Regions from separate parts of the Homo sapiens genome. Here regions 1, 2, 3, 4, 5 and 7 are each reported to be linked to region 6. The links are microRNA targets in miRTarBase. Many come from high-throughput screens and were not tested one by one. Region 6 holds a microRNA gene; each other region holds the end of a gene's coding sequence. Distances are from middle to middle.

What was found. Region 6 holds the annotated microRNA hsa-miR-6499-3p (AGCAGUGUUUGUUUUGCCCACA, at 1,566-1,587, opposite strand). A microRNA usually pairs through its seed, bases 2 to 8, with sites in the 3' UTR of a target mRNA and lowers its output. Matches are read on the target gene's strand: a 7mer-m8 pairs with bases 2 to 8, a 7mer-A1 pairs with bases 2 to 7 and ends in A, and an 8mer does both.
Region 1: the mRNA of MOCS3 is a reported target of hsa-miR-6499-3p. Seed matches in the 3' UTR shown: 7mer-A1 at 2,844-2,850, 7mer-A1 at 1,038-1,044 and 7mer-A1 at 825-831.
Region 2: miRTarBase lists MRNIP as a target of hsa-miR-6499-3p. The part of its 3' UTR that is shown has no 7-base or 8-base seed match.
Region 3: the mRNA of NFX1 is a reported target of hsa-miR-6499-3p. The part of its 3' UTR that is shown has no 7-base or 8-base seed match.
Region 4: miRTarBase lists ZNF500 as a target of hsa-miR-6499-3p. Seed matches in the 3' UTR shown: 7mer-A1 at 2,922-2,928 and 7mer-A1 at 1,456-1,462.
Region 5: miRTarBase lists ERC1 as a target of hsa-miR-6499-3p. Seed matches in the 3' UTR shown: 7mer-m8 at 2,774-2,780 and 7mer-A1 at 3,642-3,648.
Region 7: miRTarBase lists ZFP36L1 as a target of hsa-miR-6499-3p. Seed matches in the 3' UTR shown: 7mer-A1 at 1,646-1,652.

What each region holds. Positions count from the first base shown.
Region 1 is chr20:50,959,604-50,963,666 of GRCh38, reverse strand. It overlaps MOCS3 (molybdenum cofactor synthesis 3), which reads right to left. Exons shown (of 1, transcript NM_014484.5): 1 at 1-4,063. The coding sequence ends at 3,442. Among named protein-coding and RNA genes, the nearest start is that of MOCS3, 2.8 kb to the right of the region's middle.
Region 2 is chr5:179,833,852-179,837,905 of GRCh38, reverse strand. It overlaps MRNIP (MRN complex interacting protein), which reads left to right. Exons shown (of 7, transcript NM_016175.4): 7 at 21-630. The coding sequence ends at 515. SQSTM1 (sequestosome 1) reads right to left here. Exons shown (of 8, transcript NM_003900.5): 8 at 1-1,470. The coding sequence ends at 1,313. Among named protein-coding and RNA genes, the nearest start is that of SQSTM1, 15 kb to the right of the region's middle. RefSeq lists enhancers at 912-1,061, 843-1,137.
Region 3 is chr9:33,369,343-33,373,394 of GRCh38, reverse strand. NFX1 (nuclear transcription factor, X-box binding 1) reads right to left here. Exons shown (of 24, transcript NM_002504.6): 24 at 2,238-3,489. The coding sequence ends at 3,417. Among named protein-coding and RNA genes, the nearest start is that of AQP7, 31 kb to the left of the region's middle. RefSeq lists an enhancer at 275-775.
Region 4 is chr16:4,748,925-4,752,989 of GRCh38, forward strand. ZNF500 (zinc finger protein 500) reads right to left here. Exons shown (of 6, transcript NM_021646.4): 6 at 1-4,065. The coding sequence ends at 3,452. It overlaps DNAAF8 (dynein axonemal assembly factor 8), which reads left to right. Exons shown (of 10, transcript NM_139170.3): 10 at 1-472. Among named protein-coding and RNA genes, the nearest start is that of ZNF500, 16 kb to the right of the region's middle.
Region 5 is chr12:1,489,855-1,493,919 of GRCh38, forward strand. ERC1 (ELKS/RAB6-interacting/CAST family member 1) reads left to right here. Exons shown (of 19, transcript NM_178040.4): 19 at 239-4,065. The coding sequence ends at 376. Among named protein-coding and RNA genes, the nearest start is that of LINC00942, 8.6 kb to the right of the region's middle. RefSeq lists an enhancer at 1-105.
Region 6 is chr5:151,520,523-151,524,587 of GRCh38, forward strand. MIR6499 (microRNA 6499) reads right to left here and starts at 1,626; the gene lies at 1,565-1,626. FAT2 (FAT atypical cadherin 2) reads right to left here. Exons shown (of 24, transcript NM_001447.3): 19 at 754-1,564. It also overlaps a transcript of SLC36A1 not described here. RefSeq lists an enhancer at 1,462-1,631.
Region 7 is chr14:68,785,978-68,790,042 of GRCh38, reverse strand. ZFP36L1 (ZFP36 ring finger protein like 1) reads left to right here. Exons shown (of 2, transcript NM_004926.4): 2 at 1-2,381. The coding sequence ends at 510. Among named protein-coding and RNA genes, the nearest start is that of ZFP36L1, 5.1 kb to the left of the region's middle. RefSeq lists enhancers at 1-58, 166-245, 256-315, 2,748-2,927, 3,217-3,511 and silencers at 3,788-3,837, 3,858-3,927.

The sequences.
Region 1 (4,063 bases), not on the chromosome of region 6:
ATGTTCCCTGCTTCTCAAACCTCACCCTGTCCCACTCTCCCTAATTGTTTGCAACCCAACTTGCCTCTGCAGTTTCTTGAACGGAACATTCCAAGTTTATTTACCTTGAGGTCTTTACAGTTATTTTTCTCCCAGTATAGAATTTTCCTCAGATCTTCTGTAACTGGCTCTTTCTCACCTTTCAGGTTTTGGGTTTAATGTCATCTCTGAGGCCTTCCATAATTAAGCTATTCAAAACAGATCCCCTCCCCCACCCTAATATGTCACAGTTTCATTTCTTTTATGGCACTTATCAGTAATTTACTTATCACCATTTAAATATAAACTCCTCTACAACAGGAAACCTCTTGCTCATTTTTATTCCAGAACCTAGAAGAACTAGTACACTGAAGGCATTTGATGTTTGTTATGAAAAGGAAACAACAAAAAAATCAAGTTCAGGCTGGGCATGGTGCCTCATACCCGTAATCCCAAGCACTTTGGGAGGCTGAGGCAGGAGGGATGCTTGAGCCCAGGAGTTTGAGATCAGCCTAGGCCACATATTCAGACCCCATTGCTACCAAAAAATTTTTAAATTAAAAAATGGCTAGGCATGGTGGCATACAACTGTAATTCAAGCTACTTGAGAGGCTGAGGTGGGAGGATCACTTGAACCCAGGAGGTTGAGGCCACAGCGAGCTGTGATCACAACACTACACTCCACCCTGGGCGACGAAGCAAGACTTCGTCTCAAAAAACAAATTATGTTCAAATCCTATCTCACCATAAAAACCTAGCTACAATCCCCAGAGAAAACCAAATTTCAAATACTAATATATGCCAGGTGCAGTGACTCATGCCTGTAATCCTAGCACTTTGGGAGGCTGAGGTGCACAGATCACCTGAGGTCAGGAGTTCAAGACCAGCCAGGCCAACATGGCGAAACCCCATCGCTACTAAAAATAGAAAAATTAGCCAGATGTGGTGGCAGGTGCCTGTAATCCCAGCTACTCAGGAGGCTGAGGCATGAGAATCACTTGAACATGGGAGGTGGAGGTTGCAGTGAGCCGAGATTGTGCCGCTGCACTCCATCCAGCCTGGGGGATAGAGCGAGACTCTGTCTCCAAAACAACAACAACAAAAAACAAATACTGAAATAGATCTGGGTTGTGTACTGGGTATCTGTTATATTCTTAACAGCCCATCTTTTGAAAAATATTTCACTATTTGGGAAAATCCCACATCATGAGTTCTGTCTTCCTATTGTAGATATCAAAACACAAATTCCCAGCCTCTCTTGCAGCTAAGATGTAGGCATGTAATTAGACTCTGCCTACCAGGCACCCTCATAAGGCTTGACTCAGAAAAGAATAATGTAGTGACTCTGTTTCTCGACACATGGACTGTGGCTGAAGTGTTGGGCTTTCTGGGAGAGTTGGGGGGGCACGTCAAGTGAAACTGGTGAGACTGTAGTGGCGTTTCCTCCGGTACTTGATAGGGCAGCACAACATAGACACTGTTCTCCTAAGGCCAGTTTTGTGCATGATTTCGGGCATCATTCCTAGAAGTACAGCCTTGAATCTGTCCCCAAAATTCTCAAAAGCACCTCCTATCACTTTAGTAAACCTTTTAACACTTAGCTAGTCAGCTTCTCTTGCCTGTCCCCTGTGACAACCAGGTTTATAGGAACTACAACTGTCTATAACTTTAGGACTTCAGTCTTTAGAATATGAAATTGTTCCTGTGTGTCGCTATTTGTTTCCTGCTATGTATCAGAATCAGTTGTCCCTGGAAGAAGGAGATGAAAAACACAGGCCAGCCATCTTTGTTCTCCACTCCAGGTCACAGTCATTTACCTCCATAACTCGTTGGCAGGAACAGTCATAAGAGACCTGCTTCATCTTTATAACAGAAGGGTATACCATACTTTAAGTATACCTGTTCAAAGAATTAGTTACAATGTTTCACAGTTAAAAAGTGATGACTAATTTTGAATTTGTTAAATACCACCCTCTTATAATAAAACAAGATTCTATATCACAAATTGCAAACTGGTAAGTAAATCTGGTCTACAAAGGGTTTTTGCTGGCTTATGATACATTTAAGCTTTAAAAAAAATGGTTAACAGAAATACAAAGATTTTATAGTTGTATCTGTGATTTCTGCCATTCTTAAAAAAACAACAGCAGCAATTGATGATTATAAGCCTGCATGCAGCAAGCAGGAGGTCACAGGCCCCCTTCTGACAAGCCATTAGTTCATCTGGCCACTGATAGGCACTCACAAATCAAATTTTTACTTATAATGTTGTTGTATATATTGGAAGTTGGTGAGACTACCTACTATTTTATGAAAATGTTAAGTAAACAAACATAAAAACATTTTACATTAGTATAAAATGCTGGAATAAAAAAACATTAAATCAAAAGAGAAAAGGCAAATTAAAGGGGGAGAGGCAAAGGGTTGGGACTTTGACTTGAAAATTCCAAAGCAAGTCAAACCATAGTATGCAATTTAAACGATGTGATATGTGTGCAACATAAGGTGGACCCTGAAGTTAACTTTAAGAAAACAGTAGCAATTTATAAGAGACACTGACAGACTACAAAGGTGGTTTCCTTTATTTTGGTAAACTTTAAAGATCTCGGGAGGGTGTGGTGGCTCACGCCTGTAATCCCAGCACTCTGGGAAGTCGAGGCAGGCGGATCACGAGGTCAGGAGTTCGAGACCAGCCTGACAAACATGGTGAAACCCCCTCTGTACTAAAAATACAAAAATTAGCCAGGCGTGGTGGCGTGCGCCTGTAATCCCAGCTACTCAGGAGGCTGAGGCAGGAGAATCGCTTGAACCTGGGAGGCGGAGGTTGCAGTGAGCTGAGATCGCACCACTACACTCCAGCCTGGGCAACAGAGAGAGATTCCATCTCAAAAAAAAAAAAAAAATCTCATTTTGATACTAATTCAAAAGGCCAAATAGAATGACCCTCTTTCTGAATAATTAAAACAATTTACATTTTAAACATGTATTTCTGTAGGATGTATTCTATCATCTGAAATATTAATAAGATCCAAGAATTTCTTAACTGAACAGTAAACAGATCCGAAGTATATAATCTGTGAAAATGATTTAGAAAGCATTTTGACTGGGGGAGGTGGAAAATAAGGACATGTAAATGATCTGCAGTTTAAAATGCAAAATCCTGTCACGTTACATCTCACATGTCCAAGACATCCTCCGTGTGCTGAAAAAAAAAATGATGGTTCTCAGAAACGGTATAATCCATTAATAAGTCATTCATCCAATACATAACAATTTTTAAAACTCCTTATAAAAAGGAGTCCACGTATTCACAGATACTGTAGAATCCCCAGCTCCTATGTATATTACCGAAAAATGCAAACAAGTGTATCTTTGAGGTATTATGGCAATCCACATCTTTCTCATCAGACTATACCAGTCACCTCAGTACTGTGGAAATGTTCCATCGATTTTGGCAGCCCAGGCCATGAGGCCCCCCACAACATCCCGAACTGTTAAAGGGTCTAACTCTTGAGCTGCTGATAAGGACTGGAGGATCTTCACGGCTTTCTGTGAGTCATTTCCCAGTTTGCAAATCACATAAATGGGGACAGCAGCCCCTTCTTGTGTGCCCTGCTTCTCTTCCCAGATTGCTTCTTTTAAGAGTTTCAGGCTCTCCGCATCCCTGCGTTCCAAATGTTTCAGAGGGATGTGTAGGGCATGAGGCAAACGACAAATGTCCACCTCCACCTGAGGCCTGACGTCCAGCAACAGGTGGAATGCCCCAGAATCCAGCAGTCGCTTATAGTCGGTGACAGAAACACGCTCCTCTGGGCTCAGTAGTTGCAGGGAGCGGCATTTATCAGTGGCTGAGGAGCCACAGAAGGCTTCATAGTCCAGCAGATCAGTCACAGTGGGCCGTTCCCCGCAAGCTGCACAGTCGAGCCTGCGGCTCCGCAGCCGAATAGAGCGGAAATGCCCTCTCAGGGCATCAAAGAGCAACAAGCTGCCACTGTAAGAGGGGCCCAGACCCGCAGCGATTTTCAGCACTTCCAAGGCCTGCAGG
Region 2 (4,054 bases), 28 Mb from region 6:
ATGGCCATCTTCTCTTTCAGGGACAGGCTGGCCTGACATGGAAGGTGAAACAAGGCAGCAGCCCCTGCCTCCAGGAGAACTCTGCAGACTGCAGTGCCGGGGAGCTGAGGGGTCCTGGGAAGGAGCTATGGAGTCCCATCCAGCAGGTTACAGCCACATCCTCTAAATGGGCGCAATTTGTCCTGCCACCTAGAAAAAGTTCACATGTGGACAGTGAGCAGCCAAGGTCTCTTCAGAGGGACCCCAGGCCAGCTGGTCCAGCACAGGCTAAGCAAGGGACCCCCAGAGCACAGGCCTCAAGAGAAGGCCTCAGCAGGCCCACTGCCGCTGTCCAGCTTCCTCGGGCCACACACCCCGTCACATCTGGGTCTGAGAGGCCTTGCGGGAAGACCTCATGGGACGCAAGGACTCCCTGGGCAGAGGGTGGGCCCCTGGTCCTGGAGGCACAGAATCCTCGACCCACACGACTATGTGACCTCTTTATAACTGGGGAAGACTTCGATGATGATGTGTGATCTGGGACTGGCAGGTTATTAATCGAGATACACTTGTTAGGAGGGACAGGGTTCCCCTAAGGCACTTTTAAAGATACTCTGTAAGAACCATTAACAATAAACTTACTGTCAATCATTTCTCTCTATGCAAACGTCATTGGTTAAAGTGCTGATGCCATTTAATTAGATTGTTTACAAATTTAACAGGATGGCTACAAAGAGATCTTATTTTAAAAGCAGCTGATGGTTTGGAAATGAGAGAACTACAGTGGTGAAGAGACCAGGAGGCAGCTCTCAGTGAAACCAACATTGCGGATGCCCTTCGTGAGCCTTCTCAGTCCCAGCAGGAAGCCCACAACACTGGCCTCCCCAGCCTGCCTGCTGACAACACCTAGGCTTACTTTATCTAAAATCAGAGTGTACCAGGTCTGTAGCAGAAAATAATCAACTAAATGTCAGGGACCTATGAGTCATTTAAAACAAAAGAGAAAGTGAAAGCCATTAGGCAAGCTATGTGCTGGGCTGCTAACGTAGCCCCTGCAGGGAGGGGTCAGGAGCGCGCTGCAGTGAGCCTTGGGTCTCGCAGGCCCAGCCCTGCTGCAAGGAGCCAGGGCACCCAGGAAACATCAGCACACACACACACAGGGACCCTCCCTTCATGTCACTTGTTTTGCTGCCCTAAATGGCTTCTTGCACCCTAACCCCTGATCCTGGAAGAAGGCAGAGAAACTGGCCCGTACAGAGACCTGCAATTCTACGCAAGCTTAACACAACTATGAGACAGAAGAGGGGCACGCAGAAGAGGTGGGCAAAAGTGGTCACAACGGCGGGGGATGCTTTGAATACTGGATGGTGTCCAGAGCCGCTCCGATGTCATAGTTCTTGGTCTGCAGGAGCCTGGTGAGCCAGCCGCCTTCATCAGAGAAGCCCATGGACAGCATCTGGGAGAGGGACTCAATCAGCCGCGGGTCAGCCTCTGCCGAAACAGTAAGGAAGCCATGAGGAGTGGTGCTGAGCCCTGTGAGTGACCCGAAACACATACCCTGCTGCCTTGGCCAGCCAGGACCAGGGTCTGCCAGTGTCCGAGCCTGCCCAGAGCTCTCGTCCTCACAGGCCACAGTGGACCTGCTTTCCCTGTAAAGGGCCAAGCAGTCTTTTTCACACTGCTCAACTCTGCCACTGCGACACCAGGCAGCCAGGTGGTGTGTAAGCAGAACCATCAATGGACACTGAAATAGGCATTTCACCTGTCACATCTTTTGATTTTAAAATGTAAGAACAGGCCAGTTAGCCAATTATTACACTCCTCCATGCAAGAGATGATGGGGCATTGAAATAGATTGAAGATGGAGAGAGATGAATGGATACAAGATACATTTTGGAGGTAGAATGAACAGGACTTGGAAATGTATGTGGAGAAGGCAAAGGAGTTAAAGATGATATCTGGAGCAGCACAACTCACAATTGCAAAGATGTGGAACCAACCTAACTGCCCATCAAGCAATGAGTGGATAAAGAAAATGTGGTATATATACACCATGGAATACTACTCAGCCACAAAAAGGAACGAAATAATACCTTTTGCAGCAACTTGGACGGAGCTGGAGGCCATTATCCTAAGTAAAGTAATTCAGGAATGGATACCAAATATCATATGTTCTCACTTATGAGTAGATGCTAAGCTATGATGATGCAAAGACATAAGAATGATATAGCTTTCCCTCTCCCTCTTTCTCCACGGTCTCCCTCTGATGCCGAGCCAAAGCTGGACTGTACTGCTGCCATCTCGGCTCACTGCAACCTCCCTGCCTGATTCTCTTGCCTCAGCCTGCCGAGTGCCTGCGATTGCAGGTGCGCGCCGCCACGACTGACTGGTTTTCGTGTTTTTTTGGTGGAGACGGGGTTTCGCTGTGTTGGCCGGGCTGGTCTCCAGCTCCTAACCACGAGTGATCCGCCAGCCTCGGCCTCCCGAGGTGCCGGGATTGCAGACGGAGTCTGGTTCACTCAGTGCTCAATGGTGCCCAGGCTGGAGTGCAGTGGCGTGATCTCGGCTCGCTACAACCTCCACCTCCCAGCTGCCTGCCTTAGCCTCCCAAAGTGCCGAGATTGCAGCCTCTGCCCGGCCGCCACCCCGTCTGGGAAGTGAGGAGCGTCTCTGCCTGGCCGCCCATCGTCTGGAATGTGAGGAGCCCCTCTGCCTGGCTGCCCAGTCTGGAAAGTGAGGAGCGTCTCTGCCCGGCCACCCATCGTCTGAGATGTGGGGAGCGCCTCTGCCCCGCCGCCCTGTCTGGGATGTGAGGAGCGCCTCTGCCTGGCCGCGACCCCATCCGGGAGGTGAGGAGCGTCTCTGCCCGGCCGCCCCGTCTGAGAAGTGAGGAGACCCTCCGCCCGGCAGCCACCCCGTCCGGGATGTGAGGGGCGCCTCTGCCCGGCCGCCCCTACTGGGAAGTGAGGAGCCCCTCTGCCCGGCCACCACCCCGTCTGGGAGGTGTACCCAACAGCTCATTGAGAACGGGCCATGATGACAATGGCGGCTTTGTGGAATAGAAAGCGGGGAAAGGTGGGGAAAAGATTGAGAAATCGGATGGTTGCCGTGTCTGTGTGGAAAGAAGTAGACATGGGAGACTTTTCATTTTGTTCTGTACTAAGAAAAATTCTTATCCTGTTGATCTGTGACCTTACCCCCAACCCCGTGCTCTCTGAAACATGTGCTGTGTCCACTCAGGGTTAAATGGATTAAGGGCGGTGCAAGATGTGCTTTGTTAAACAGATGCTTGAAGGCAGCATGCTCCTTAAGAGTCATCACCACTCCCTAATCTCAAGTACCCAGGGACACAAACGCTGCGGAAGGCCGCAGGGTCCTCTGCCTAGGAAAACCAGAGACCTTTGTTCACTTGTTTATCTGCTGACCTTCCCTCCACTATTGTCCTATGACCCTGCCAAATCCCCCTCTGCGAGAAACACCCAAGAATGATCAATAAAAATAAATAAATAAATAAACAAAAATAAGAACTACTCTTGGCCCATAGGCCATAGCTCGCCATCCCCTGCCCTAAGGCAGAGAAGACACACAGCGGCGGCCCACAGCAGGTTGTGCACACGGACCTTGGTTTACACACGGCTGCCATGTGACAATGAGGAGTTTCTGTCAGCTGTCCCCACCCCCCACCCCCCCACTGCTGCCTGCCACACCATCCACTTCAACGGTGGCTTCTGCCTGGCTCCTACAGGGATCTTGGCTATGACCCCCCCCCCTCTCAGACCAGCACTCCCTGAGGCGGCACTTGAGTGTGAGTAGTAGGGACACACCCAGTGCTGCCCCCTCTCTGTGTCACACCTGCCTTAATTCCTGGTCTGCATGTTAAGTTTTAGAAACTCCTACAATTAATATTCCTGGCTCTGGAGTTTGCCTAAAGAAAAACATTTTCAGAACTGCATTAGCAGAGCTTACTCGCTATTGCTCAGGGTACACATAATAGGACAAAACCAACTCCTAACCTCCCACACCTACAGACAGCCCTGCAGTGGAGAACATCTCATCCTTCTGTTTGTGTCGCTGA
Region 3 (4,052 bases), not on the chromosome of region 6:
GCCGTCCCTCCCCGATTTTAGAAGAGGAGGCACATCAGCAGGTTCTCCTTAGGGAACAAGGTCTCCAGGCTTTCAGGCATAAAGAAGGAAGGCCAGCACTACACAGGAGGGATTCTCCCCCAAACCTTAATCTATAGGACTCAGTGAGCGAGTCTTTGCCCTTCCCCCTCCCTCAAGACTGACACTCCTCCTCCTCCTCCTCCCCTGCCACCTTCTCTGGCCTCTCCAAGACAGGATCTAGGGCTGTGGCCAACAGACCTGCAATTAGGAGGGCCTGCTCTCATCTCCACAGTCCCGCACACACCCACTATTGCATGCCAGGCAGGTAACACTATTGAGAACAGCCGGCCCTGCCAAACAAGCCAGAGGGAATTTCAGAGAGAAGAATTTGGTCGCTGGAAAGCTCTAGCCCATAAAAACTCTCCTGCTGAAAGAGAGTATGGGAGCAGGGAGAGAAGTTACCACCTGATTCTCAGGGAGCAACAGCTTGGGGTCCTGGTGCCCTCCCTCCATGCATGGGGTGGTGGAGGCACAGGGGTCTTCCCGTCTAGCTCATGCTCCTGTACACTCTTGTCCAGTGCCACTGCTCAGTGAGGAATCCACCAAAGCTACAAGCAGCAGCTTCCCCTTGCTGAGGAGACCGGGGGTCTCCCCTTGGTGATATGAGGGGGGCTAGTTCTCCCGCTAACCTCTGGCATCCAATCCTACCTCCCTGATCTGAATCTCTTCCCTCTTTGCAGTGCCAACCCCCATCACCCTCATTTTCTCTCACCCGGATCACTTCTGCAGCTTCCTGGCTGAGCTTCCTGCCTCCAAGTAGCCCTCCAATCCCTTCTATACTCTTCTGCCTGAGGGACTGCTCCAGAACAGGGTGGGTAAAATAAAGTCCCTGGTCAAATCTAGCCTGCTGCCTGTTTTTGCACAACTCATGAGCTAAGAATGGTTTTTATGTTTATAAATCGTTGGGGAAAAAAGTCAAAAGAATATTTTGTGACATAAAAATCATATGAAATTATTTCGGTGTGCACAAATAAAGCATTAGAACAGAGCCTTACTCTTTTCATTTGCATATTGTCTACGGCTGCTTTCACACTACGATGGCAGAGTTGGATAGCTGCAACAGAAACTATAAGTCTCACAGTCTACAATATTTACTATCTGATCTTTTTTCACAAAACATTTGCTGAATCCTGGTCTAGATCCTAAATCTGGCCATGCCACTCTGCTTAGAATTCTTGTCACTCCCTGTGGCTCTCCACGAGCTGACCCCTGTCCACCTGTCCAGCCTCATCACCTGTGCCCCTAGTTGTCTGCCTGCTCTGGACAACCCTTACTCAACCATTCCCCCAGCCCTGTCTCCTGCTGTTTACCTTCTCTCAGCATGGGCCTCTTTCCTCCTCCAAATGGCAGCCTACCATCTCAAGCCTCAGCTCAAATGCTTCCTCCCATTTCACTTTCCCACACGTGTCCTGCTCTGACCCCCAGAGCTAACCCATTTCTACCGCAACTTCACAAAATATTCCTCTTAGGACTCTTCAGCTTTTAATAACCGATTAACAACCTGTTGGTGGCAGACTAGCCAATTCCACTGAGAACATCTGTTCACGTGTGTCCTCCCTGGATTACTAAATGTACGAAACCAGGCTGCTTCCCACAGCCCTGGCACAAGGCTGGCACAGGGTAGGCATGCAAATATTCACCAGAAGAGGCCTGGTTAGCATTCCACACCTTCTACTTGGCTAGTATTATGGAGGAAGATGTGTACATATTTTCTAGATACTAAGTATCATTTTTATGAACTTTGAGGATCAGGTACCTCCACGTGTATTACTCCTTTAATCTTCATAACCCTAATGAGGTCAGTGAAACTTTCATCGCATCAAGCGGCAAATTATGTGGCACAGCTAGAATCTGAAGTCAGGTCTCCTGCCTTTTGCTGATTCTGAGATACTCTCACACGTACTATTCACCCACTGAACCCACTGCTTGAAAGAGGTAACAGATGCTCATGGGCTTCCTGTTGTGTGTGGGGCCACTGACCTGCACTACATGGGTCCAGAGAGAGGTGGTTTTGTTTTGTGTCACTTCCCTCCAGTCACCTGTTCCTGCTGCTGTACCTGATCCCTTTTGAAGCAGACTGGGTAAGGACCAAAGGACAGCCCTGCTACAGGAGGAGGAGGATTGAGGAAAAAAAATGAAAAGAAATAAAAAAATGAAAACACCAAAAGGCAGCCCTATAAAGTTAAATTTTATAATTTAATTAAGTGCTTGTTTTTGTCACTCTACTTCTCAAGTCTCCTGCTACTGCTCTGGGGCTCATGGCTTGCTCTAGGGCAGAAGGAAGTTGCTGGAAGCCTGGCCTCCAGGCTGGAGGGGTGCCAATGCAAGGGTCACACTAATGGAACTATCAATGCACCTGCCTTAAAGGAGCCTGAAGAATGCCTCCAGTGGGCTGCTGGGCATAAGCCCTGGACTGTCCATATACTACTTGGAATATTCAAACAGAGTCCAGAGCTCAGAGGCAGGGAGAGCCAATAGGCTGCTGAAGGCCTAGGGAAAGCAACACAGGACAGTTGTCCATTTGAGACTCTTTCTCTATCAAAGAGGAGTTAGGGATATACTGGTCAGTTCAGAGACCACAGTGTGACCCTGGCAGAAGAACTTGCTCTCTATATTTCCTACCATCATGGGGGACGGCCAAACTGATTGTTACTGAACAGGTTCAGTGATGTGGTATGAGAAGTGCCAGGGACTTAAGGAAATAGAATTCTGTAAAGCAGCCTGACCCCCTTCTAGGTCTAGAACTGATCACATTGAAAATGCCAAAATAAGTTCAGCTAGATATACCTATGAGAGGTTTTGGCAAAAGACTTAGGTATGATGGCTGGGTTTAAGATAACATGTGTGATTCCGGATATGGTATACCAATTCATTATTTGGTATTTCAGACTAAAAAATTCATTTGTGCTCCTAAAGATTTTGATCAGTTTGGGTAAAGCAAGCAATGTCTGTCTGATGTTTCAGGCATTTTCAGGAGGACAAATAACTGGGACAACTGAGGCTATGACTTAGTGGCATAAAGTTGGTTTCAGGCTAAAAGTTTGGTTTGTCCAAATAAAGCCCAATAGTCCCTCAACTCTCAGAGCAATCACAGTGATGGTGTAAAGAGCCTCTTTGAATGCGTGATTGCATACCTAGTGACCATACAATCAGAGATCTGGTCATAATGAAACACTTTATACAGACAGGAATAGACAAGGGATTTCTGACACACTCATGCTTTGGATGTGTCAGTACAAGACAGTATGTGAGACTGTGATTCTGCCAGGCAGAGGGGAACGGGCATGATTTATCTGCTGGCAAATAAGTCTCCACTATACCTAATCATTCTTTTATCTAAGTGCATCATGATCTTCTTAGTCCTGGACGTCAAAATAGTCAATTATTGGCTCCTTGGTTATTTTCTGTAAATTACTGCTCCCAGGATTCCTGAAAAACAAACAAAGAATGATCAGTCTTTTCTTCTTTGGGGGAAACAGATACAGGACTTCAGAAAGTTAAGGATCAGCTGATTTACCATTTGTGAATCTTAAACATTTATTTTATTTTTATTTTAGTCTTACTTTTTTTCCTTCTGCCCTTTGTGAGCAATTTTTTTAACTTTTGTGTTTCCTTCTAGATTTACATATTACATGGGGAATTTTATTCTGTGAGATAACAAATTCTCTATTTACACTTTACAGTTTAGAGGTAACCTTTCACAATCTATTTACAGGATTTCATATATGATGATGATTTTACTCTGCCTTCACAGTTCAATGAATGCTCAGTTAACAGCTTAAGCCAAGCGAGCATCTCACTTGTGAAGTTTTGATAGTGGGACAAACATGAGCTGGTGATTTTGAAATTTGGTAATGGGCACATGGGCATTTATGATAGTAATACTATTCTCTCTACTCTAAAACATTTCCATAATAGAGTTTTATACAAAAATAAAGCAAGCCAAGGGTTTTTAAAAAGATAGCATGGGATGGCCAGGTGTGGTGGCTCAC
Region 4 (4,065 bases), not on the chromosome of region 6:
AAGACAGGCCCTGCTTGGCCGTGGTCACTGGCCGCCAAGATCAGGGCTACAGATGTCTGCTCTCTGGACCCCACGTGATCTGGCCACTGGGGACCCCCACCCGACCCCACTCCCAATGATGAGGGGCATTTTCATTGCAAGTCAAAGGCAAGACAGGCTTCCATAAAGTCCCAGGAGGTCCCTCCTGTAGGGCACAAGGCCAGGCTGCCTCCCAGCCCCCAGGCCCTCTCCCACCTACAGAGACCCTCCCCTGCCCCCTCCACTCCGGGGCCTGTGCCGCCAGAACCGGGCTCTGCCCCCATACGCTGCCCTCGCAGCCTGGCGGCCTCCGCTGTGGCTGCCTAGCTGTCAAGAGCAAAGGCTTTTTTTTTCTTCAACCCCATTTTCTTCCATTTCTCCCACCTTTTTAATGCCAGTAACCTCACTGAGAATGTTTTACAGTGATGGAAAATAAACTCTGTTCCAAGTTCAACTCTGAATTACTGTGTCTGTCAAGGCAAGGGGAGTGAGGTAGGAAGTCAGACCTGCGTCCAAAGCTGGCTCTGCCACCTGGGCAAGGTTTTCACGCTCCCAGTGCCCAGTTCCTCCACCCACAGAAGGAGAATCATGGCCGGGCGCGGTGGCTCACGCCTGTAATCCCAGCACTTTGGGAGGCCGAGGTGGGTGGATCACAAGGTCGGGAGTTCAAGACCAGCCTGACCAACATGGAGAAACCCCATCTCTACTAAAAATACAAAAATTAGCCAGGCGTAGTGGTGCGCACCTGTAATCCCAGCTACTCAGGAGGCTGAGGCAGGAGAATCACTTGAACCTGGGAGGTGGAGGTTGTGGTGAGCCAAGATCGTGCCTTGCACTCCAGCCTGGGTAATGAAGTGAGACTGTGTCTCAAAACAAAACAAAAAAAGGAGACTAATGGGAGTCCCCCCTCACTGGACTGCATGAGATAACATCACAGCACACGCAGGCACCTGGGACTCACAGCTCCTACAAAACTCTCCCATCACGTGAGTGCTGAGGATGACGCCCATGAGATGGGGCCAAGCAGCAGGCAGCGACCATGAGATGGGGCCAAGCAGCAGCCAGTGGGAGGCCACAGCCTCGGCAGGGGGAGGGAAGTGGGCAGACCCCAACCACACTCCCCCAGAGGCCGCCACCTCCAGCACAGGCCTGGATATGAGAGAGGGGCCTGGGGGCTCAGGCTGCGCTGGGGAGATGGGTGTCAGCAACGCTGGGTGCTTTGCTAGCTCCTGGAGTGTGGCCTGGCCACATCTAGCTGGGTACCTCATGCCCCATGAGAGATCCCAGAGCTAGTCTAGAAGGTAAAAGCCGTCCCTCAACCAGGCAGCCCCATTCTGCAGACACAGGACAGAGCACACAGGGGCCAGAAGCAATGACTTAAAAAAAAAATTGTTTATTTTATCTGAGACAGGATCTCACTCTGTCTTCCAGGATGAGTGCAGTGGCACAATCACAGCTCACTGCAGCCTCAACTTCCTGGGCTCAAGTGATCCTCCAGCCTCAGCCTCTCAAGTAGCTGGGACTACAGGCACACCCCATCATGCCTGGCTAATTTTTTTTTTTTTTGTGTGGAGTCTCGTTCTATCACCAGGCTGGAGTACAACGGTGCGACCTCGGCTCACTGCAACCTCCGCCTCCCTGGTTCAAGTGATTCTCTTGCCTCAGCTTCCCGAGTAGCTGGGACTACAGGCACGTGCCACGCCACCATGCCTAGCTAATTTTTGTGTTTTTAGTAGAGATGGGGTTTCACCATGTTGGCCAGGATGGTCTCGATCTCCTGACCTTGTGATCCACCTGCCTCGGCCTCCCAAAGTGCTGGGATTACAAGCGTGAGCCACTGCACCTGGCTTTTTTTTTTTTTTTTTTTTTTTGGTAGGGAAGAGGTCTTTCTATATTGCCCAGGCTGCTCTTGAACTCCTGGGCTCAAGCAATCCACCCGCGTTGGCCTCCCAAAGTGCTAGGATTATAGGTGGGAGCCACTGTGCTCGGCCTCTGACACTAAATAATGTCAGTTAAGGGAATGAGAAAAAGGGCAGGTCACGCACCTGGAACCTGGGCTGTGCCAAAAGGTCAAATGTGCACGTATATACAGTGACTAGGTGACAAATGCAATGGAGCATCCCAGGCTGGGATGAAGGCCAAGGCCACCTACCTATGAGGAACAACCACTGCCTGGCTGGAACGTTCCAGAACCCAGTGGTTTCCATAGCTGCCCTACGACTTCCGAGATGACTAAACCCACCAAGGACTCTATCACACTGCTTGTCTTGGCCACTCACCCACCGTGGATGTGCACAGACCAGTGGCTCCCACGCAGCACAGGCCAGACAAAAGCTGGAAGGTGAAGGCTTCTTACCTTAGAAAGACAAAGTGGGGCAACCGTGGAAGGCCACATTCCAGACACTAAGGGGCCAGGAGCAAACGCAGCCCTGGGCCCCGGCCCTGGGGAGATGTCAGGCCCGTCACATCCCAGGCAACATGTCAGGAAGATGGAACTCAGGGGTGCTTTCCCGCCCCAGGTGTCTTCCGCCCTGCAGAGCAGCTATGGATCTGCAAAGGGGACTGGAATGCTGCAGAGCCCCGGGCTCCATTTGGAAACTCTGGCAGGATGAAGAAGCTGGAGACCACGTCCTGGGAAGGCTGGGGTACAGCAGGGCTCCCTGCAGCAGACGAGGGGTCCCTCAAATTCATGTGCACCCAGACCTCAGAATGTGACCTTATTTGGAAACACGGGTTTTGATGATATAATTAGTTAAGATGAGGTCACAGTGTATTGGGGGACCCTAAACCCAGTGAGTGGTGGCCCTACCAAAAAAGAGACTGGGCATGGCGGCACACACCTGTAACCCCAGCTACTCAGGAGGATGAGGCAGGAGGAACACTTGAGCCCAGGGATTCGAGGCTGCAGTGAGCTATGATCATGGCACTGTATTCCCGCCTGGGGGACACAGCAAGGCCCCGTCTCAAAAAAAAAAGGGGGGGGGAGCAGGTGGGGGGTACACACAGAGACAGCGCACAGGGTCACAGACACACAGGAGAGGGGTTGGGACGTGGGGATGAGGCTGTATGCCAGCAGCCACTGGATGCTGGAGGCAGCTGATGGACCCTCCCAGGCCCTTCAGGAGCCAGCCCCACGAACACCTTGAGTGTCGGCTTCTGGCCTCCTGAGTGTGTCTCTGTGGCTGAAGCCCCTGCTCTGTGTCACCTGTTCTGGCTGCCACTGGACACTCAGAGCCTGTCCTTGCCCTTGTTCTGCACCCAGTGCCCAGCTTCCTCTGCGGCCTGGGCATCCCAAATGTCCCCTGCTGGCCTCATACTGGGCCATGGGAGGAAACGGGCAGCTGGCAATGCTTTCGGACCAGGCTGTCTAGCAGTTTCCTGAATTCTGTGCCCAGGGATGAGAGTCCTGGAAAGGGAGTTTCAGGCCTGGTGATCAGGCTTTGGCACCGGGGCCTCCAGGAGCCACCGGCTGGAGCGTCGGCAAGGAGCCTGCCCCCATGTGGGTCCGCTGGTGCTTGTGCAGGTCGGTGCCCCGGCGGAAGCCCCGGCCACAGGCCGGGCAGGTGTAGGGCTTCTCACCTGTGTGCGTCCGGCGGTGGGCGCTGAAGTGCGAGCTGTTGTTGAAGCGCTTCCCGCACTGGGTGCAGGCATAGGGCCGCTCCCCGCTGTGTGTCCTGCGGTGGATGACCAGGCTGGAGCTCTGGCTGAAGCGCTTCCCACACTCGGGGCACGGGTAGGGCTTCTCGCCTGTGTGCACCCTCTGGTGCGTGCTGAAGTTGGAGCGGTCGCTAAAGCCCTTCCCACAGACTAGGCACTTGTAAGGCCGCTCGCCCGTGTGTGTGCGCTGGTGCTTGGTCAAGTGGGACGTCTTGCTGAAGCCTTTGCCACATTCGGGGCAGGTGTACGGCTTGTCAGCCCCATGGGAAGCCCGTCTTCCTGGTGGGGGGCCGCCTCTTGGCTGATCAGGCCTGACCAAGCCCCTGACTGGGGCTGGCCTCTGACCTGGGAGCGGGTGGCCAGGCCCCTGGCATCGTGCCGAGAGCACTC
Region 5 (4,065 bases), not on the chromosome of region 6:
GAAGTCACAGCTCTGCAAAAATGATCAGCTTTCGGCCTAGAACCAGTGACTAACTTTTTGGGCCTCACTTTCATGAAGACGCATTTGATATTTGCTTTTACACTTTTCTTATGGTTAATTTTGATGCAGAGAGACTTCACATACAGAGTGCCTTTGTCATTTATTGATGAAAAATAATTCTTAGCTCAGTGCAAATGGGATTGTTGTATCTGAAATCCATCTCTCCTTTCCCTTTCAGCTTCAGGATGAGTTAGAGAAAGGTGAACGGGACAATGCAGAACTGCAGGAGTTTGCCAACGCCATTCTTCAGCAGATAGCAGACCATTGTCCCGACATCCTAGAGCAAGTGGTCAACGCCCTGGAAGAGTCCTCTTGACCCTGCTTTATGGGGAAGCCTGAGGTAGTCAACCCAGGAGCCAAGAAAAGAGAACTACGAGGAACAGGTGCCCGGAACCTTCTTGGCACCAAACACTACAAACTTCATCCCAACTTGCTCACTTGAAGAAGTGTGATTCCAGCACCGTTTCTACATCTGCCATCTTACTCTGCCTTTCTGCTTTGGATGTGGTCTCTACACTAACCTTCTTGATGTCCAGGGTAGATAAAGGGTCGAATCTCTCTGAAGAACTGCCACCTGGTCATCAGCAGTGGAGAACTGTGGGAGCTGGTGGCTCTGCCCTGACAGAGAGCCATGGAGCAGAGGAGCCTCTCACCTCCTGTCCTCTGACATGAGAATGAAACCAGGAATGGACTTGGAGTTCAACAGGCTGAGAGGATGCCTCCAATGGACCAGAGAGCTGAGTGTTCTAATATCACAATAGGTGCTTTCTCCTAAAAGGGCAAAAAACAATCTCAAAAAGATTAGAAAAAGAGAAGGGGGGAAGGGAAGAGAAAATCGACTCTTCTTTTTACTGTCTCTTCTGCTTACTTTCCACATGAGATGCTTTGTACCGGGGAGCTGTGAGCAGGCCTCACGATGGCTTGGGAGCACTCGTTCTCCCAAGGTCTGAGTCTTCATCCAGCCCTGCCTGTCTGTCGCAGCCTTCCTCACTCTGTTCCTCGGCCAGTTAACAAGAAGATGGTGTGAGGTGTTCTCCACCAGTCTCTCCTGTTTGAGACTGTTGACGTTATCATACTGAGGTGTTAGATCAAATATCTCTAATTGAAGAACATGTGAGGTTGAAAGAGCACCAGCCAGGGCAACATAGCGTGACCCTGTCTCTACAAAAAATTAAAAAGAGAACATACAAAGTTGACATATGAGACCCTGTTGTCCCCGCCTGCAGCTTTGCCCCAGTAACAGATGCCCGTTGCTCTTGGGCTGGTTTCCCCTGAACACCTCCAAGAGGCTGCCTGCCTTGCCAGCACCCGTGTCCTGAGCTCCTGCAGCCCAGTGGCTGCTGAAGTTGTGATCCCTCACTCACCCTGCTAGCTTTGCCCTTGACTCGTCTTCTCTGAACCTCAGCCTCGTGCATTGCCTGGAACCTTCTTCTAGCATAAATGAAGGTTTTTCCTCCTACACACATTCCTTCCTCGGTTATTTCATTCAGAGAATATTTATGAAATGCCTACTGTGTGCAAGTCATCCATCCTTGAAAAGGCCACTTCTCAGTGAGGGAGAGATGTAGTGGATTCTGTGAGACATACCTGCTGGAGTTGAAGCAGTAAATAGCATGTCCTTCCCCTCCCCGATCTTAAGGTGTGTTTTCTAGAAAAGTTCCCTAATGGAATTCATGAGTTTGGGGGTCTCAGTCACCCGCTTGCCTGTAGGATTCCATTTGATGATTCTGGATTTTTGCTGTTTGTTATTGCCCTTAGAGGGGCTCTGAGTATCTACTTGTGGGTGGCCATTTCCTGACATCTGCATGTACCTCGTGGAATTCAGCCAGCTTCATGTTGCAAATCAGAAAGCTGACCCCAAGACTGCAAATCAATGAAGGTATTGGCATTGTTAAGGACGTAGCGTAGACAACAGCAGTCATAAATAATTAGGCAGGAACTTAACCCAAATCTAGTTCTTTGACCACCTCTACCACCAGAACCCAGCAGACACTCACATCTCCTGATAAGAGTTGCTGGACTCGATGTTTTTGTTTTGCATTTTCTCCTCTCCTTCCCCACTTACTCAGAGAATTTAAAGTCTGTAGAGTCAGCACAGCCCCATCAGTCCAGGAACTTCCCACCACCAGCCCTTGACTGTCCCATTAACTGACATGGTCAGATTTCCAGCTCCCCCTACTCCCTGCTGTGAAACAATCCCTCTCCCTGTGAGAGGAAACTGTGGAGCGTTTCTTATCGAAGGTTAAATGGACTCTGCTCATAAACCTCTTACTGAGATGCTTCCTGATAGCCAGGCTGGCCAGAGAGGGGTGCAGGGGTTAGATAGTAAGTGGTGGTCGTTTGTGGTCAGTTACCTCAATTCTGTTCATTGCAGTGCCCGTAAACCATGTAGAAAGCTCCCAGCACTGAAAGGCAGGAGTGTTAGCATCTCGCTTTATCCACCATAACGTAAAGAACTGCGGTGTGATAACAGCCTTCACGGGGCCACGGTGGAACCAAGACAGCAGGCGAGGCCATGCCTAAACAAGTGGTCTGGCACGGGCACTGGCCAGCTGCTCTCTCCAAGCAGGTGGCCCAGATCCCACCCACGTGGACTTTCTCATCAGGTGCAGCGCCTGCCACTCTCAGCCACTGGGTGTGTCACTCTCCTCTTCATCTCAGCATTCTCCATCACTTCCCCTCCAGAAAAACGGATGGAAGGAAGCCCTCTGTGACACTGCTTCTGAGAAGAAGCATTTCCGGGACCGATATCATCTGTCTGGTCTCTGTGAACAGCAAGGAATCTTCTTGACCGTTCTTGGGCACTGGAGGCTGGCTAGGAGTTCAGTAATAAACGTGGCCTTCGTGCTGTAGGGCAGAGTGGATGCAGTTTGTAGCTTTCAGAGTGTCTCATTGAGTCTAGATCATTGAACCAACACTTAACCAAATGTCCCACTCCCATCACACTAGGACTTGTCATTCCATGCCCCTCTCCTAGTGGTCATGGTTTCATATGGGCATACAACTGCTACTGAAGTTATATAGCCTTGAAAACTCAGTGCAGGTTGCCCTTAATTTTCCCCAAACCCCTCCATCGGCAAGTCTAGTTGCCCTTTAGCACCTAAAGATCTGCACCCCAAACCAATGTCACCATAAAGAGGGCACGAAGAAGAGTGGGTGTGATCCCAACGGGGTTTTGTAACTGAAGAAGCCCAGTGTGAGCTTCTCATCTTTTCATATACCTCTAACCCCCGGTACTCATTGAATCATTGATGAGGTATCTCAATTGAGATTTGCAAGGACTTTGATACCATTTGAAATGGAAAAATTTTGAACGGGCTTTAACATGTTTAAGAAATATGGATGGGGCCGGCCACAGTGGCTCACGCCTGTAATCCCAGAACTCTGGAAGGCTGAGGCAGGCGGATCACCTGAGATCAGGAGTTCGAGGCCAGCCTGGCCAAGATGGCAAAAACCCCGACTCTACTAAAAATACAAAATTAGCCAGGCGTGGTGGCGTACGCCTGTAATCCCAGCTACTCAGGAGGCAGGAGAATCGCTTGAGCCTGGGAGGCAGAGGCTGCGGTGAGCCGAGATCGTGTCACTGCACTCCAGCCTGGGTGACAGAGACTCCATTTAAAAAAAAAAAAAAAAAATATATATATATATATATATATATATATATGGATGGGAATCACCAAATTCATCTCAGCTCTAACCTTTTAACCTTTGTCCTTGCACTTTACAATCTAAAGATCTACCTGTGGCTCTCAGACTTCCTCACACTTGGGTTTTAGAAATAACTTGTAAAGCAGACTGGACCCAAGGCCGCCTTCAGTGTCAAGAAGGGCATTGTGACTTGCCCCTCAATTTCTGTCCATTGAAGTCTGGTTTTCCATGAGGAACTTGCGGGCTCACCCACCCCCAGAGTGAGAGAAGAGGAAGGCGAAGTCATCACAGACACGGTCTTAGCCACCTGCTGAACTAATCCCTCCGCTATTGAGGGTCAGGGTTGTGAGGCAACCA
Region 6 (4,065 bases):
CCTATAGCAACTGCTACCACGGGAATGACAGTCACCGTTGATCTGGGGCTTATTGTGGGCCAGCCATGGGTTAAGTGCTTTTATAACTCTTACGTAATTTCCCCCCCGAACCCAACTCCAGGAGGCAGATGTATTTATTTTGACTATTTTATAGATGGGAAACTAAAAAGCTCAGAGGGTTTTAACAATACACCCAAAGTTACACAGCTAGTGACTGATGGAGCTAGGGTTTGAACCTGAGCTGTCTGAGTCTAAGCCTTGAGCTTATAACCACCAGACTATGGTAATAATAGTAGCAGTATTAGTAACTCACATGTATTGACCACTTTCTATATGTCAGGCACTGTTCTAAGCAAGCACTTGATACATAGTACTGATGTAATTCCTACAGCAGCCCAGCTCAAAGGCACAGAGAGGTTAATTTTCCTAAAGTCGCCTGGTTAGTAAGGGGTAGAGCTGGGATTTTAACCCATGAAGACTGAAGCCACAGCCTATGCTCTTAGCCATGATGTTAAACCACATATTGTAGTCTTACTGTTATTTTCTAAATCTCGAAAGGGAGCTGAGAATTGGGTATTATTCCATAACTAGATTTTGTGAGGCCACTAGCCGTCTTATGGTGATTGGTGGCCTTTGGGCTTATTAAAACTTCCCTGAACTCTCCCACAGAGCCTCAGTGGAATCTCCATGCTTAGAGTCAGGCGGGCTGAGCCCAGCAGTGCTGCTCGTCCCTAGGGAAGATGTAGTACTTACCATTGCAGGAGCAGCTCCTCTGCAGGTGGTGCCGCGGGGTTAGGATGCTGAGCCTGGCGGTGCTGTACGTGGGCCCAACCTTGGGGTCCAGATGCACTGTGTTATGGCAGATTTGACCCTGGCAGGTTGGCCCCTGGCAGGGCACCATGGGCATAGCTGACCGCATCTGAACCCCCACTGAATGCTCCATCTCCTTGGCTGAGTGAGTGATGATGGATGCTAGCTCCTGAAACTCGTAGAAGGTTCCAGAATGCCCCTCAAAGACCAGGAGCACATCCACACCAGCCACGGCCTCTGCAGGCTGGAGGCTGGCCAAGTGAATGTTAGCCCGTTTGATGTCCAGCTTATGGCTGAGGAACCTCTGCAGGTTCCGCCAGTGGTCACTCACCAGCTCCTCGGGGGTGAGCTGGTAGAAGCCCATCCACATGGCCTGCTGCAGAGCCTCCTGCCCCACATGCCACACGTACACATGGACCCCAGCAGTCGTGGTGAAGGTCCCATCGCTGACCGTGACGTTGAACGAGTAGTGGCCACGAGGCAGGCCCTGGGCGGCGATAATCTTGCCATCAGGCGCACCCACTGAGAAGTGCCTGCCCAGGGTCTCCTCTTCTGCCAGGCTATAGGTCAGCGTGTCCTGGGGGTCTCGGTCTGTGGCATGGATCTTACCCACCATGCCACCCTGGAACTCATCCTCTCCAACAGTGATGAAGATCTCCAGTGGGAGAGCAGAAGGTGCATAGTGGCTCTGCTCTGTGACATGGACACGGACAGACGTCAAAGACGAGAGGGGAGGGATGCCACTGTCTGACGCCTGTGGGCAAAACAAACACTGCTGTCACCCAACAGAACTGCAGTGCTCTTGCGCCCGACTGAGGCTGGGCCTCCTTGTGGAGCTACGTTTCTCTGCCCCACGCCCAACTTGAGGGCTGGCTCAGCGCATTGTTGCATTTAGAAAAAAAAAACCTAACTCCAAAAGCACTGACAGAAAAGAAAGATTTTCTGAAGGTTTTGTAGAGATTGAAGGAGGGAGTTACATCCTATACCATGCAGTAAAACAATGCAGTTTCCTCATGTGACATCTCTCTGAGCCTCTTCCTAAATCTCTCCAGCCATAGACTTGGGCTAACTTCCTCATGAAGTTTCTCATTCTGTCCCTGTCCTCAAGGGCGCCCTCAGATGTCTCAGCAATTCTGATGCACCATGCACCCTGCTCAGCCTACGAAAATTCCCCTTGGGATTCCCTTTTGCTATGCGATTGGAGTGGGAGTCGGGATTTGTCCTTCTAGTCAGTCAACGAAGTCTTCTGCTGTGGCCAGGAGAAAAGAGACAATAAATAAGTTACCAAATAACTTGGATAAAATGCTGGGAAGGAAATAAACAGAGACCTAACTTTGATCAGGTAGAAGAGAAGGAGTCTCTGTGGAGTGACATTTGAGTCCTGAGGGATGAGAAGAAGAGGCGACAGACAGAGGGAGCAGCAAGTGTAAGGTCCTGGGGTAGGAATGAAGGCGGTGTGTTCAACAGCACAGACGGGGTCACTGGTGCTGGAGCAAGTGGGCAGGGAAGCAGGCCTGACCTCACTGATGGGCTGGCACGCGCAGGGTTGCAGTTAATGTCAGAACTGTGAAAAGCCGTGAGGGTGACAGGACCTCACTTAAGTAGGGAAAAGAATGTAAATCATAAACGCATTTTCCTTTCATGTTTCACCACACATCCCTGCAACTTCCTGCCTGACTTAGAAAGGACAGGCTTGCCTTCTTCTCCTCAGTGATGTTATCACTTCCTCAGCTGTCAACGAGGGTCTCCACAATTTTCCCTGTAGTAATATCTTGTTCACCTGCACTCCAACACTTTTAATGTACAAGAAAGTTGATAAGATTACACCTACTGCTGGAAGTCATGCATAACACCGAAGAGATATTAATAGCAACAATAATAATTAACACTACTGTTAATTATAATGTATAGCTAACATTAGTTACAACAATACTACTACTACCGATTATATATAATACATAGCTAACATTAACTGAGTACAATGCTAGTCATTATCATAGATAAACTATGATAATGCTGTAAATACATTATCCTAGTTTATCCTTCTTATGAGATAGGTACTATCAAGTCACCCATCCTACAAAAAATATAACTGAGGCTCAAAGAGGTGAAGTAACTTGCCCAAGGTCATACAGCAGCAGATAAGGCCTGAGCAGAATCTGAATACCTATCTGTGTCTATAGCCTGTGTTTTTCTTTGCTGGCCTATGGTGCCTCCCAGTGCATGGAAGTGGAAGTACGGGACCAATGCAATTGATGGTGATGATGCCAGTCATTACTAAGCTCCTGTCTAGGCAGGACGTGTGCCTGGGTCTGAGAATACAGAGGTCAGGAAGCCATTCTCTCTCATCTCTCCCTAGGCAATCACATCCATGCTCTTGGCTTTGAGGGCCATCTACCAATCCTCTGAGCTGCCAACTCCAATTCCCAGCTACCCACTGGACACCTCTGCTTGGATGTCTCACAAACAACTGGGAAATAATGTGCAAAACAGAGCTTCGGTTTAGCCCATAAACCTGTCCTGCCTTCCCGTCTGGGCCTTTCCAGTCTCATAAATGCACTACCACCGAAGTCTTCATGGGAGCCAACAATTTAGAAATCACCCCTGAATCGTCTCTGTTCTTTCTAACTGCACATCCACTCCACCAACTCCTATCAATTTACATACAAAATATGTCCGAAATCTCTCCGCTTCCTGCATCTTCTCCATCACTCCGTGGTCTCAGCCCCACTATCTCCAGCTTGGATGACTTCTCACTGGTCTCCCTCACCCACTCTATAGAGCTTGAAAAATGAGCTTCCTGAGACACAAAGAGGATCCCTTTTCCGTCTGAAACCCTCCAACCACCTCTCATTGTACTTAGATTAGAATCTAAAAGTGTTACCAAGGCTTATACTTAGAAGATTGGATGCCCTGGTTTGTCAAGGACAGTCTTGATTTTTACCTGTTGTAAATCAGCTACTACCAAGTATTATTTTTAGTGCCTGTTTTGGACTCTATGTTTGTGTCCCCTCAAAATTCATATGTTAAAATCTAATCCCCAGTGTAACAGTATTTGGAGGTGGAGCCCTTGTGAATGGGATTAGGGCCCTTATGAGAAGGGCCATGTGATACAATGAGAAGCCGACAGTCTGCCATTCAGAAGAGGGCACTCACCAGAACCTGGCCATGCTGGCACCCCGATCTGGGACTTCCAGCCTCCAGAACTGTGGGAAATACATTTCTGTCCTTTAAGCCACCCAGCCTATGGTGTTC
Region 7 (4,065 bases), not on the chromosome of region 6:
GGGCCCCGCTGCCACTTCATCCACAACGCTGAAGAGCGCCGTGCCCTGGCCGGGGCCCGGGACCTCTCCGCTGACCGTCCCCGCCTCCAGCATAGCTTTAGCTTTGCTGGGTTTCCCAGTGCCGCTGCCACCGCCGCTGCCACCGGGCTGCTGGACAGCCCCACGTCCATCACCCCACCCCCTATTCTGAGCGCCGATGACCTCCTGGGCTCACCTACCCTGCCCGATGGCACCAATAACCCTTTTGCCTTCTCCAGCCAGGAGCTGGCAAGCCTCTTTGCCCCTAGCATGGGGCTGCCCGGGGGTGGCTCCCCGACCACCTTCCTCTTCCGGCCCATGTCCGAGTCCCCTCACATGTTTGACTCTCCCCCCAGCCCTCAGGATTCTCTCTCGGACCAGGAGGGCTACCTGAGCAGCTCCAGCAGCAGCCACAGTGGCTCAGACTCCCCGACCTTGGACAACTCAAGACGCCTGCCCATCTTCAGCAGACTTTCCATCTCAGATGACTAAGCCAGGGTAGGGAGGGACCTCCTGCCTACTCCAGCCCCTACCCTGCACCCACATCCCATACCCTCTTCTCCCTACCCATCCCATTCCCCACAGGCCCTACATTAACAAGGTTAAGCTCAACCCCTTTCCCCCAGCACCTCAGAATGTGCCCTCCCTCTCCCCCTCATAACCCCACCTAACATAAGGACAAGTCAATTTGTCAGTAGCTTCTTCTGGCTTGAAACCCCCTCCCTGGATTTTATAGCCCACTTACCATGCATAACAGACAAGTCCCATATTTTGTCAGTAGATGCCTTTTTTTTTCCGGCTTAAGCCTTAAGTGCCAAATCACAAGAGAAAAAGCAGTAACAGTTTACAGAAGCAACTTAGTGCCTTGTAATCTAACTTTGTCACTGTGACTACATTACCTCTTCAGCGCCAGAGGGCACCCGTGGGCCTCCCGGAGCCTCTGCCCATGGCGGGGTGGAGACCCGGAACCAGCAGCCCCCTCCACTGGCGACACAACTGCACCTTCCCTCATTTCAGTCTCCCGCACACTTATTCCTCCTCCCCTCTTCCCGGTGGCACCTCTCCACCTGTACCCGCCCCCCCACCCCCCCCACCCCTGCCCCTTGGAAGAGTTGTTGCCAGACCAGGGTTTTGGGGGAAACCTGTCTTGACATTCAAAACCTTTTTCTTCCCGATCTGAACCCCTGTTGACTAATCTTGCCTGGGTTTGTGTAGGTCTGCAGGAAGGAAGGCTGAAAAAGCGGACGAAGATTTTGACTTAAGTGGGACTTTGTGATTTAATTTTTTCTTTTTTTTAAGTGGGGAGGAAGGGGAAGCTAGATGGACTAGGAGAGACTTGATTTTGGTGCTAAAGTTCCCCAGTTCATATGTGACATCTTTTTAAAAAAAATAACAACAAAAAAAAAATGAGAGAAAAGCTAAAAAAAAAAAAGTAAGGGGTGAGCAGTTAATGGTATTCATTCCACATACAATATCTGTGTAAAACGATTTCCTGTAGAAGTAGCTTTAATGGTTTTTGCTCTAGAATACCGTAGGTCTATCCTTAGAGCACTCACGCCATGCTTTCTTCCCTGGGTTTTAAACTTCATATAACTTTCAGAAATTGGAGAGCAAAAATTTTGCTTGTCACTGCACATCAATATAAAAAAGCTTATTTAACTTATCAAAACGTATTTATTGCCAAACTATGCTTTTTTTTGTTAATTTTGTTCATATTTATCGGGATGACAAATCCATAGAATATATTCTTTTATGTTAAATTATGATCTTCATATTAATCTTAAAATTTTGTGACGTGTCTTTTTCCTTTTTTTCCACAGTTTTAATATATTATTCTTCAACGACATTTTTTGTAACTTTACACTTTTTTGGTTATTTTATTTTAAAAAAATGAAAAATTAATTTAAAAAAATGCAAAAAACTGTTGGATTATTTATTTTAGAAATTCCCCCCTTTGTGTTGGACTGCAAATTGAGTTTCTTTCTCTTTAGGCCTTTCACAACTAGGACTGAGAATGTATGTAAAAGTTCTGTGACAGTACAGAAGGAAAACAACTTTTTATGTATAGCTTCTAAAAGGGGAAAAAAAAAAAAAGAGAAACCCTTTGACTTCCACGTGCCCATCTCAAGACATTCCACTCACAGATTTGAGGTTCTGGATTCCAGGTCTGGAGTTTTCCAATGTTAATGTAAACAGAACTGGCACACACACATTAAGATGAATGTAATTATTATTCCTCTTGCTGGTCACTACCGTCGCTTTCTATTTCTCTTTCTTTGTGTGAATTTATTTAAAAGAAAAAAAAACTTTTTGTAACGACTATTTGCAGTTTAAAAATCAATAAACCCCGTTTTTTCAAGAAACATTGATGGTGGAGCTGGTTTTACTTGGTTTTGGTTTGACTTTGCCAGTAAGGTTCTCCCCTTGTATACCTTGCAAGTCCTGGGTAGGGGGAGGCGGAGAGAGAGGGCTGTGGCTGTGGGTGGCGGCATCTCTCATCCCTATAAGCTAAGCCTATAGCTCCCTTCCTTGATGCTGGCAGTTTGCTGCGCTTAGAGGGGACGGGGTGGAGGTTTTCTGCAAAGGAGCCTGTACTTCCTGCTGTATTACTTCTGAAAAGACTGTGCAGTGTGTTAGTTGTTGGCTGAATAGCAGCGGGCCCAGCCTTGCCGACACTTGTGTGGCCTCTGCGGTTCTTCTGGGGAGCCAAGGCTCAGGGCCTTCCAGTCCGCCCCGTCCAGCCTGTGCTCTTCATTCCTTTGGATGGTGTTTGGGGTGCCAAAATGATAAAAGAGGACCTAGCACTTGGCACACTTGCAGGCTTGGATTTGAGTGAGTTCTTTTATTGGGGTGCCTTGGGCTCATTTTGCCCATAAGAAAGAAATTTACCTCAGTACTGGCCTCTCAACACCTACCCGTGTGGGGAGGGTATAAGGAAGCACTGCCTGCTTGGAGAGGAATGTCCAGCGGGGTGAGGGGCTCAGTCACAAGGAACTGGGAACTGGGACTGGATTTGACATAGCCTTTTGGGTTTGGAGGGCTGTTAAGGGGAAGTGAGTGTTAACACTGGCCAACACAACACAGCAAGTCACCAAGGGTTCCCACCACCTTAGTTACAATCTCAGGTGCTATGCAAAATTAGGTATGTCGTCATCTTGGGAAAGGTGGGGTCTCCTTGGCTAGATGCACCCCCACCAAGGCTAGATGACCACTTAAGAGGTGGCATTTCACCCGCCGGAGGAGTTGGAACTTTCACAAATCTTGAGTGTGAGCCTTGGGAGGATTTATTTGGGGAGAGGCAGAGATTGCTATTTGCAGCTCACTTGCCTTTGGTTCCTTTACACCCAGGAAGTTTTGGGAGTTCAGCTGAGTCACCATGATTCCACCAGGCCTCTTCCGAAGGTCTGCAGCAGACATTGGGCAGGCCAGGGATGTCCCTGAGACTCGAAGACCTACCTCTACTCTCAACTCATTTCCCTGGTCATCAGATATCTACTGGGGGTCAGGGGGTGAGGTAGAAAAATAGGGACTATTACCTGTTCCAGGGCAGGGGCTGGTGGTTTAGGAAGGGGAAAAGCAGCCCTTCTTAGGACTGGAGTAAACCTAGGCCTCTTGTCCCTTAAGGAGGAAATGAACTTTGTGTGTGTGTGGAGGTGGTGGTGGTGGTGGTTGGTGGTGGCATGTGATCTTCCTTTCGGAGTAAAAGCAAAAAAGACATTTAATCATTCACCTTGAGCTCATTCCCTGCAGGCATACCTGAGCATGTGGCAGACACCTTTCTAACTTCCCCTCTCATGGTGACGCTGGTTAGGTTCCTAGAGGCCCAGGCGTACCTCCTGGCCAGCCCTGAATTTCCTCTAGAGGAGACAGTCCTTTGACTGAGTCAGTCCTTTGACTTTGTCTAACCAAGATAGAGACATTGACTACTGGAGGCCCTGGAGGGTGGGGGTTGGCTGTAAAGCCCAGGGGAGACTCCTTATCATGTGGGGAAGCTCCATGTCCCCGGGTCTTAACCCTTTACCTCTACCTAAGTGTCTCCCTGGGGAA